2 separate regions of the Homo sapiens genome follow, and region 2 is linked to region 1. Evidence: fine-mapped expression QTL. A gene starts in region 1. The other region holds a variant in brackets. All regions are shown on one strand. Distances are from middle to middle. Region 1 holds the start of ZNF707 (zinc finger protein 707). Region 2 holds the start of ZNF623 (zinc finger protein 623).

Evidence for each region. PIP is the estimated chance that this variant, and not a neighbour inherited with it, causes the effect.
Region 2: its variant is fine-mapped to the expression of ZNF707 in prefrontal cortex (BrainSeq, PIP 0.95).

Annotation. Positions count from the first base shown.
Region 1 is chr8:143,681,761-143,687,132 of GRCh38, forward strand. It overlaps ZNF707 (zinc finger protein 707), which reads left to right and starts at 2,719. Exons shown (of 6, transcript NM_001100598.2): 1 at 2,719-2,782. RefSeq lists a silencer at 294-519.
Region 2 is chr8:143,634,104-143,639,475 of GRCh38, forward strand. It overlaps ZNF623 (zinc finger protein 623), which reads left to right and starts at 1,916. Exons shown (of 2, transcript NM_001261843.2): 1 at 1,916-2,042. The variant C/T (reference allele first, on the strand shown) is at 2,476.

The DNA.
Region 1 (5,372 bases):
AGGCTCAAAACCAAAAACATAAGTAACAGCAAATCAACAAGTATTAAATTATATGTAACTAACAATTTTGAAGACATTCCTATTGACATAGGATGTTGTTCTCAGTCATTCTGCAAGCCAGGGACCTCCGGCCAGCGACGCCCCGCCAGGGCCTCGCTTGACACACTACCTGCTGCAGGAGACAGCCCGTCAACTCCCCCGAGTTCCCGAATGCTTGTCCACGGCCAAGAAGAATGAGGAGGCTCTGACAATCGAAGAGTGAGCAAGGCGGGGAATTTCACTGGGTGACGGGGCAGCTTTCAGTGGAGAGGGGACATGGCGTGGTCCCCCTACATGAAGGCAGGAAAGTTCCCCATGTTATGGACTCAGAATGGGGAGGGCGTGCTGATTGGTTTGTGAGTAATGCAAAAAAGGTTAAAGCAAAGGCACCACTGAAAGGTGGGCATGACAGTGTAGAAAGCCAATTAGAAAAGGGTAGGTATATGTAAAATAGGTGAAGGGTGGGACCAATCAGAGGAAAGTGCGCCAGACAGGAAGACAGGCTCTCAATCCGGTCTGAGGATTCGACTTGCAGCTTGGCTTTCAGGCTTTAAGCTGTTTTCAGCGTCGAGGTGGAGGTTTCACTGGGGACCTGCCCCCATTTGGCTGGGCATTTGGCTGCCTGCCTCCTGTCGCTATCACTCCTTTACTAGTGAGGACTAAACTGATCTTTTTCTCTCTTGCTCAAGTTCTTATCTAAAGGGCCTGGGGAGTCTGCCCTACAAACCATAAAATGTCATCAGATAGGTTTTATTTAACCCTATATAATTGGCTTAGTTTCCAACCTGACTCTAGCATAACGTCACATGACAGATAAAGGAAATCAAAATATTTTACTCTTTTTTTTTTTTTTTTTTTGAGACGGAGTCTCACTCTGTCGCCCAGGCTGGAATGGAGTGGCGCGATCTCGGCTCACTGCAAGCTCCGCCTCTGGGTTTCACACCGTTCTCCTGCCTCAGCCTCCCGAGTAGCTGGGACTACAGGCGCCCGCCACCATGCCCGGCTAATTTGTTGTATTTTTAGTAGAGACGGGTTTCACCATGTTAGCCAGGATGGTCTCGATCTCCTGACCTCGTGATCCACCCGCCTCGGCCTCCCAAAGTGCTGAGATTACAGGCGGGAGCCACCGTGCCCGGCCTATTTTACTTTTAAATATATTTCTTGGCTATACTTTGGATGCTTTCAGGTCATAGGTGGATTCAAAGATTTTCTGATTGGCAATTGGTTGAATAAGTTAAGTGATTACCTAAGACCTGGAATCTATAGAAAGGCGTGTCTAGGTTTGAACAGTTGGCCACCCTTGTGTGGGTGGAGTATTACATAGGTGCCTAGGCAAGAGACTGAAGGCACAAACTGTTTCAGTATAATAAAGAAAATAGTTAGAATAAGAATAGTCATAATACAAATTAGATATAGAGATGACCATGAACAATTATCAATCATTATTATAAACATTATTAATCATTAGCTTTTACCATTACTCTTTGTTGCATTACTAATATAACCTAGGAATAACCGGCGGATATAGGGTCGGGTGCTGAAGGGACATGGTGAGAAGTGACCTAGAAGGCAAGAGGTGAGCCTTCTGTCACTCCCACATCAGGGCTGCTTGAGGGCTCCTTGGTCAAGCCCTAACGCCAGTGTCTGGGAAGTCACCCGTTGCTTAGTAGACTGCGAAAGGGAGTCTCCTTTCCTTGGAGGAGTCAGGGAACACTCTGCTCCACCAGCTTCTTGTGGGAGGTTGGATATTACCCAGGCCTGGCCGCAGTCATCCGGAGGCCTAAACCCCTCCCTGTGGTGCTTCAATGTTCACGCTCCTTGTCCACTTTCGTGTTCCTCCTGTACTCCTGGTTCCTCTTTGAAGTTCGTAGTCGATAGCGGTAGAAGAAATAGTGAAAGTCTTAAAGTCTTTGATTAATGCTAACTTATGCTGCCTTCTCTCTCTGCTTCCGCTACCTAAGAGGGAAGGGCCCCCTGTCCTGTAATCATGTGACTTGCTTCACCTTGTCAATCACTTAGAAGATTCACCCTCCTTACCCTGGCCCCTTGTCTTGTATGCAATAAATATCAGCGCGCCCAGCCGTTTGGGGCCACTACCGGTCTCTGCGTCTTGATGGTAGTGGTCGCCCGGGCCCAGCTGTTTTCTCTTTATCTCTTTGTCTTGTGTCTTTATTTATTACAATCTCTCATCTCCGCACACGGGGACAACACCCGCTTAGCCCCGCAGGGCTGGACCCTACACCCTTGATTGGCTGGAACTGGGTGACTGGCAGGAGAGCAAGTGACAGTCTGTTCACACCTCCAGTTAGGTTACAGTTCACTTTGTAGGATAAACCTTTAGGCCGACTTTAGGTTATGAGGGCCGGGATCGGTGGTTCACGCCTGTAACCCCAGCACTTTGGGAGGCCAAGTCAGGCGGATCACCTGAGGTCAGGAGTTCAAAACCAGCCTGACCAACATGATGAAACCCCCGTCTCTACTAAAATTACAAAAAAATCAGCCGGGCGTCGTGGCGCTTGGCTGTGACCGGGGCGGGGCCTGCCGGCTGCGGCGGAACCACAAGCGGTGCGGGGCGAGGCGGGCGGCCTGGACGGCCTGGAAGGCCAGCGCGCACCACCGAGACGTGGGCTCCTAGAGGGGCCGGAAGCTTTCGGATAACAACTTCCGCTCGGGAAGTTTGTAAAAGTCTGGGCTACCGGCGCGGCGTAGTGGATGCAGCATCCTAGTGGAGGACGCCCCTGTGGTGAGTGCGCCCGTGTCCCCCGCCGCCCCTCCGTCCCTGGGTCGTGGGCTGTCAAACCTTCTAATTCTGCGGCCGCCCCAGGGCTGTGAGACCCAGCGTCGCGGCTGCTGGGACAGACCGGGGAGGCTGCCCGTGCCCTCGGCTATTCGGGGGCTGTTCTTCAGCTTCTTCCGGCTCGGCCTCCTCTTCTCTCCTCGCTCCTTACACTTGCAGGTTTGTCAGGACCCGGTTGCGTATCCTCTTGAAGCTGGTTTCTTCCTGGCCGACCCCGTCCGCGATCGTGACCTTAGTTATCCCTCATAGACACTTTCCACACCTGTGTCTCCAGCCCTATCGCTCCGATGAGACCCGAGCGCTTAGACTTGATTCATAACACCCAAAGCTCCCCGGCCCCAGGCTGAGCTCCTGCAACCTCCACACCCCACCCTCTGGTCCTCCCAGGCATTCCACCGCGAAGGGGAGGAGGCAGAAACCCGAGATTCGCTTCTTCTCCTTTCCTGCCCACGCCCAGCCACACAGTCACTGGTGCGTTAGCTCCATAACTGAACCATTTGCCTCCTTGCCATTCCCACCCTGTAAGTCCCAATCCTGGCCGTCTTCCTCTCTCACCTGAACGCCTCCCTGTCTTCTCCCCACCCCCATCCTGTTTTGCTGCTTTCTCATTTGTTCATCACAGAGGATCTTTTATAAAATGTAGCTTAGCCAGGCAAGGTGGCTCCCGCCTGTAATCTCAGCTCTTGGGAGGCCGAGGCAGGTGGATCACTTGAGTCCAGGAGTTCTAGACCAGCTTGGTCAGCATGTTGAAACCTTGTCTCTACAAAAAATACAAAAATTAGCCGGGTGTGGTGGTGCACGCCTGTAATCCCAGTTACTCTGGGGAGGCTGAGGCAAGAGAATCGTTTGAACCCAAGAGGCAGAGGTTGCAGTGAGCAGAGATCGCGCCACTGCACTCCAGCCTGGGCGACAGAGCGAGACATCATCTTATTAAAAAAAAAAAAAAAAAAAAGGTAGCTTAGGCCGGATGCTGTGGCTGACGCCTGTAACCCCAGCACTTGGGGAGGCTGAGGCCAGAGGATCTCTTGAGGCCAGGAGTTTGAGATCAGTCTTGGCAACATAGTGAGACCCCGTTTCTGCAAAAAACTTAAAACAATTGCAGGGCATGTTGGCACATGCGCTTTTGGTCCCAGCTACTGGGGAGACTGAGGTGGGAGGATCACTTGAGCCCAGGAGGTCGAGGCTGCAGTGAGCTGTGATTGCACTACTGCATTCCAGCCTGGGTGACAGAGCAAGGACCTGCCTCAGAGAAAAAAAAATCCTGTGTTAATTTGCCTAGGGGAAAAAAAGTAGCTATGACAATATCCTTCTGTTCTCCCGTATTAAACTTTGTTGCATTACACATGAAACCACGGCTCAGGAGGCCTTGAGGAATCTGGCTTTAGCCCCTTTCCTGGCCTATCTCACGGTTCTCCCTGACTCTGCTTTCCAGGCTGGGAAGCCCAGTCCAGGTTGTGCAAACACAGCTGTTGAGCTGAGGGGAGAGGGTGTTTTTTTTTTGTTTTTGTTTTTGTTTTTTTTGAGATCGTCTCGCTCTGTCTCCCAGGCTGAAGTGCAGTGGCATAATCTCGGCTCACTGCAACCTCCGCCTCCCGGGTTCAAGCAGTTCTCCTGCTTCAGCCTCCCAAGTAGCCTGGCTAATTTTTTGCATTTGTAGTAGAGATGGGGTTTCACCATGTTGGCCAGGCTGGTCTCGAACTTCTGACCTCAGGTGATCCACCTGCCTCGGCCTCCCCAAGTGCTGGGATTACAGGCGTGAACCACCGCGAATGGCCGGGAGCTGTTATTTTTATCACTGTGGTCATTGCTACTTGCTAGAGGAACTCAGCAAGGTGTTCTAATTGGAAAACACCACCCATGACCCATGTGCTCAGTGTGCCTTTTCATGTTTTTATAGACCGTTGTATAACTTTGGTTGAAGTGTCTGTTCTAATATTTTGCCCAGTTTAAATTTTATTTCTCTTTTTTATTGATTTGTAGGAGTTACAATTCTTTATATAAGTCCTTTGTCAGATACATGTATTGGGAATATTTTCTCTTAGTCTGTGGCTTACCTTTGTGTCTCTTTTTAGAAAAAAAAATTTAAACAATAGAGACAGAGGTCTCCCTATGTTGCCCAGGCTGGTCTCAAACTCCTGGCCTCAAGCAATCCCCCTGCCTTAGCCTCCCAAAGTGCTGGGATTACAGGCGTGAGCCACTGCACCCCGTCTCCTTTTTTTTTTTTCTTAACTGCCTTGGTAAACAAAAATTTTTAATTCTGATAAATCCAATTTGTGATTTTTTTTTTTTTTTGAGACGGAGCTTTGCTTTTGTTGCCCAGGCTGGAGTGCAATGGCGCGATATCGGCTCGCCGCAACTTCTGCCTCCTGGGTTCAAGTGAATCTCCTGCCCCAGCCTCCTGAGCAGCTGGGATGACAGGCAAGTGCCACCACGCCTGGCTAATTTTGTATTTTTAGTAGAGATGGGGTTTCTCCATGTTGGCCAGGCTGGTCTCAAACTCCGTACCTCAGGTGATCCGCCCACCTCGGCCTCCCAA
Region 2 (5,372 bases), 48 kb before region 1:
GCTACTCGGGAGGCTGAGGCAGGAGAATGGCATAAACCCGGGAGGCAGAGCTTGCAGTGAGCCGAGATCGCGCCACTGCACTCCAGCCTGGGTGACAGAGAGAGACTCTGTCTCAAAAAAAAAAAAAAAAAAAAAGTATTAAGTGCCAAGCTGCAGCCATGTGTTAGCTGTTGGTGGGGTTGAAGTGGCAGGCGTCAGGTGTACAAGGCAGATTTTGATCTGTGACAACCTGCTCAGGCGGTGTTCTCAAGCTCTTTGGGCCTGCGGACAGGGAGGCTGAAAGGTCTGTAAGCCCTGTGGGGAAGAGGCCTCAAGCCCTTCTCGCCTTAAGAGCTGGGTCCCATGGTAAGCTGGCAATAGGGTTGCAGCAGCCAAGGTCTCCGGGCCTGGATGAGAGGTGGGGTCGCTCAATGTAGGGCTTTCACACACACCCCTGGAACACAGAAGCCTTTCCAAGAGCCGGGGAGCCCCTGGAGAATCACAGCAGGAGTTCCACATGGATTCTGCCCTGGAATTCCTGTAGAAGGTCCTTGGATGAGGGCACGCGCCTAGCGTGTCCCCCTTGGCCACAGCTCCTTCTCCCACGTTGCTTCTCTTCCTTTATTCACCCTGGTACCTGGCCTTGGTACCTGGGCTGTCCTCCTCATCAAAGGGACAATTCAAAACTCTGCAGTTGATTTTAAGAAAGTAGGTGAATTTATTGGCTGGGAAAGACTTCATGTAGTTTTGCACTTTAGGTTACTTCTAATTCTTTGTTTGCTTCTGTCAAAATTTAAAAAGGACCTATTCAAGTGGTCAACTGACAGGTCATTAAGTACACTTGGTGATAAACTGCTGTTATGTTTTTTGCATATAAGTCAGAAAGAGCTAAAGAAATTGAGCGTCGGCTGGGAACAGCGGTTCACGCCTGTAATCCCAGCACTTTGGGAGGCCAAGGCGGGTGGATCACGAGGTCAGGAGATCAAGACCATCCTGGCCAACAAGGTGAAACTCTGTCTCTACTAAAAATACAAAAATTAGCTGTGCGTGGTGGCGCATGCCTGTAATCCCAGCTACTCCAGAGGCCGAGGCAGGAGAATCGCTTGAATCAGGGAGCCATAGGTTGCAGTGAGCAGAGATCACGCCACTGCATTCCAGCACTCCAGCCTGGTGACAGAGCGAGAGTCCATCTCAAAAAATAAAAATAAAAATAAATTGAGCGTCATTGCTAAAACAAAATTCCTCCCAATCCTATCTAACAATTTAGGTAAACAAGTTTCCTCAGTGCTAGCAGAAAAATGGAAAAAGAAAACCCAAAATACGAATATAATGTTTTTTTGGTGGGGGGGGGGGGCAGGGGAATGTAATTATTTCGATTATTTCGGACTGTGACTCATTCTAGCAATGAGTAATGTCTACCAAGAATCAATGAGCCGGCGCGGTGGCGCGCGCCTCTGGTCCCAGCACTTTGGGAGGCCGAGATGGGAGGACCACCTGAGCCCGGGAGGTCGGGGCTGCAGTGAGCCGAGATCGCGCCACTGCACTGCAGCCTGGGCGACAGAGCGAGACCCTGTCTTAAAAAAACCAAAACCCGAAAACCAAAAAACTCCACAGCGCGCCGCTTCCCCACTTCTCTGGGGCGCAGAGAGGTGAAGTTTGGCCCTCACGGTATTTACTTCCCCTGGATCCTCGCCTCCTGAGAAGCTGGTCTTGGGCTGCGGTCGGACCTCGCCGCGAGCTCCAGACCCGAGTTTCCGAGCCCGCGCTTCCCGGCCCGCAACCCTCCCAACCGCGTAGCAACGCCGCTCCTGCCGGACACCCCTGGCCCCTCCGGGGGTCTTAGTCCCCGGGCCCGGAAGTCCGCACCACTGAGAGGGGAGCCGATCCCTGGCGCTCCTAGAACGGCGCAGGAAGTTTCCCAGGCGGGGCCTCTCGCGACTTCCGGTCGCGGCGGGCTGGCGGCGGTGCAGGCTTTGTCGGCTGATCTGTGGGGCCCGCGCCGGCGGGGTCCAGTCAGCGGCTGCAGGGTCGGGCTCGCGCCGTCCTCTCCCCGCCCGCGCCGGGTGAGTGGCGCGTTCCGGACGGGGGCGGGCAACGCCTTAGCCGCAGCCCCGGCTGGCTCCGGAGCCCGGCCGCCTTGCCAGGGCACAGTCCGCCGAGAGGGCCGGGCGGGGTCCGCAGGCCGCTGCCCGCCCCGCTAGGGCGTCCAGGAGCGGGGCCTTGGCTAGTCAGTCTCCCGGACGCAGCCACGGCCGCCCCCGCGAGGCTGCGGCGTCTCTCCAGCGAGCCCGCCTCGGGCCCGAGCCTGGGGTCTTGTCCCTGAGGAGCGCCGTGTGGGTACCCCTGGTTCCCTCTCCTTCCCCCCGCCCTGAGCCCAGGCCGGAGAGCCGCGGGCTTGAGTGTCCGTGTCGCAGTCTTCAGGTCCGCCAGGCCTGCGTGAGGTTGATGCCGCAGACATGTTTTACGGTGTGGCAGGACTGGGTGTGGGCGTTCCCG[C/T]GGCTGTGCCTGAACCCTGCCTCCGCTCCCTGGGGCCTCGAGGCCTCTCGGTGCTGGAGGAGATGCAGCGCCAGCATCTTCTGTGCTGTTGGGGATAGGGGTGGGGAGGGAAACATGATGAGCAGAATTAGAATTAAGTACAAGACTTGGACCTGGAGAATTCCCAGATGGGGAGAGGTGGTGTGGCTACGCTGTCCTGCTTTTTCTTGAAGGTACCCTTTTCCCTTCGCGTCTTTAAGAATCCCAGTGGCGTTCTCTGTGCTTCTGTCAAGGCTGTCTTGCTCCCTTCACACACAGGCTACGTCATGGTCCAGGGACTCTCAGGGTCTGGGCAGCGCCTGGATGCTGGCCTCAGACTCATAGGTAGTTGGTGTGAAGCAGCTCAGGGAGCTGCCGAGCTTGTCTTCGCTGCCTCAGGGTCATGGAAGATGACCCAGGAGAGGACACAGGGGGCTCGTCGTTGTCCTTGGGCAGAGCCCTGAGCAGCATGCCGGTAGCAGAAGCCAAATGGCCTGGGTGGGGCGGGGGCAGTTGACAGCTGGCTCCAGTTCTCTGACCTTACGCTTCTTACCTCCCTGAACTTCCGGGGCATCGTGGGGAGCACTAGGAACAGAAGCGCTCCCTGCCTAGCCTGTGGCGCCCAGTAGGCCCCTTGGTGTGGCGCGGGGCAAGGAGGTCCAGATGTTAGTGGAGCTCTAGTCCACGTCTCACTCGGTTGCCCTCTGGTTCTGCTTTTCCTGTTTCCTGAGGGTGAAGCTTGGTGTATCCTGTTAATTTCTTCAGGCTGTAAGCAACACACAGTGACTCTGGCTGGGAGCTTGAGGCTGGAATTTCCCCTTACCAGTGTGGGTGCAAGAGCTGGGGGCTTCTAATGCCAGATGGGACACCCCTAGACACCCCAGAGCTGCTGTGGCTGCTGATGATACACAACATCTGCTGTTGAGACAATTTCAAGTGATATTTATTTATTTATTTATTTATTTATTTTTGAGACGGAGTCTTGCTCTGTCGCCCAGGCTGGAGTGCAGTGGCATGATCTCGGCTCACTGCACCCCCTGCCTCCCGGATTCAAGTGATTCTTCTGCCTTAGCCTCCTGAGTTGCTGGGACTACAGGCACACGGCACCACGTCCGGCTAATTTTTGTATTTTTAGTAGAGACGAGGTTTCACCATATTGGTCAGGCTGGTCTTGAACTCCTGACCTTGTGATCTGCCCACCTCGGCTTCCCAAACTGCTGGGATTACAGGCGTGAGCCACCGCGCCTGGCCTCAGGTGATGTTTTATCCAGCAAATTCTGTGTTACAACAGGAGATGGGTCCATGCTAGTCAGTTTGTTGTGTGGAGCCACAAGTCAGGTGGCTTCCTTTTTTTTGCATTTCATGTCAGTTTCTTTAAATGAAAATGTATTGATTTAATTTTACTTAAATTCATACAAGAAAAAGTTAAGCAAAAACTGAAGATAGCTATTTCCTTTTTGAGATAACTGTTTCTTCAAAGCAAGATATTTGCAATTTTAAAAACTTTCTCTAGAGGCGGGCAGATCATGAGGTCAAGAGTTCGAGACCAGCCTGACCAACATGGTGAAACCCCATCTCTACTAAAAGTACAAAAGTTAGCCAGGTGTGGTGGCACGCCCCTGTAATCCCAGCTAGTCAGGAGGCTGAGGCAGGAGAATCACTTGAACCTGGGAGGTGGAGGTTGCAGTGAGTGGAGACCATGCCATTGCACTCCAGCCTGGGCGACAGAGTGAGATTCCGTCTTAAAAAAAAAAAAAAAACTTTCTCAAAAGTTAAAAAAATTATGAAAATTATTAAGAGGCACACATATGGTTTTAAGATATGTTCTTGTAAACAGAAACACCCTGTTTCTGGCCGGCCGTGGTGGCTCACACTTGTAATCCAATCCCAGCACTTTGGGAGGCCGAGGTGGGTGGATCACCTGAGGTCAGGAGTTTGAGACCAGCCTGGGTAACAAAGTGAAACCCCATCTGTACTAAAAATGCAAAAAAATTAGCCGGGCGTGGTGGCAGGCGCCCATAATCCCAGCTACTTGGGAGGCTGAGGCAGGAGAATCGCTTGAACCCACGAGACAGAGATTGCAGGGAGGTGGAGATTGCAGTGAGCCGAAATTGTGTCACTGCACTCCAGCCTGGGCGACAGAGTGAGACTCTGTCTCAAAAAATATATATATATATCAAATAAAAAAAAATAAACAGCTTGTTTCCAGGTAGTATAACAGCCATTTTAAAATTTAAAATCAGAAGGTATCAACTGAGTTCCAAAACAAGAAACCAACATCTCCACCCCACCGTTCTCCCACTTCTTTTTTTTGAGATAGAGGTTTGCTCTTGTTGCCCAGGCTGGAGTGCAATGGCGCGATCTCAGCTCATTCCACCCTCTGCCGCCCAGGTTCAAGAGATTCTCCTGCCTCAGCCTCTCGAGAAGCTGGGATTACAGGCGTGTGCCACCACACCTGGCTAATTTTGTATTTTTAGTAGAGATGGGGTTTTACCATGTTGGCCAGGCTGGTCTCGAACTCCTGACCTCAGGTGATCTGCCTGCCTCGGCCTCCCAAAGTGCTGGGATTACAGGCATGAGCCACCATGTCCGGCCCACCCCCTTTTTAATTTATTTTTATTTTTATTTATTTATTTTTGAGATGGAGTTTCGCTCTTGTTGCCCAGGCTGGAGTGCAATGGCGTGATCTCAGCTCACTGCAGCCTCCACCTCCGCCTCCTGGGTTCCAGTCATTCTCCCGTCTCCGCCTCCCAAGTAGCTGGGATTACAAGCATGTGCCACCATGCCCAGCTAATTTTGTATTTTTAGTAGAGACGGGGGTTTCTCCATGTTGGTCAGGCTGGTCTCGAACTCCTGACCTCAGGTGATGTGCCTGCCTA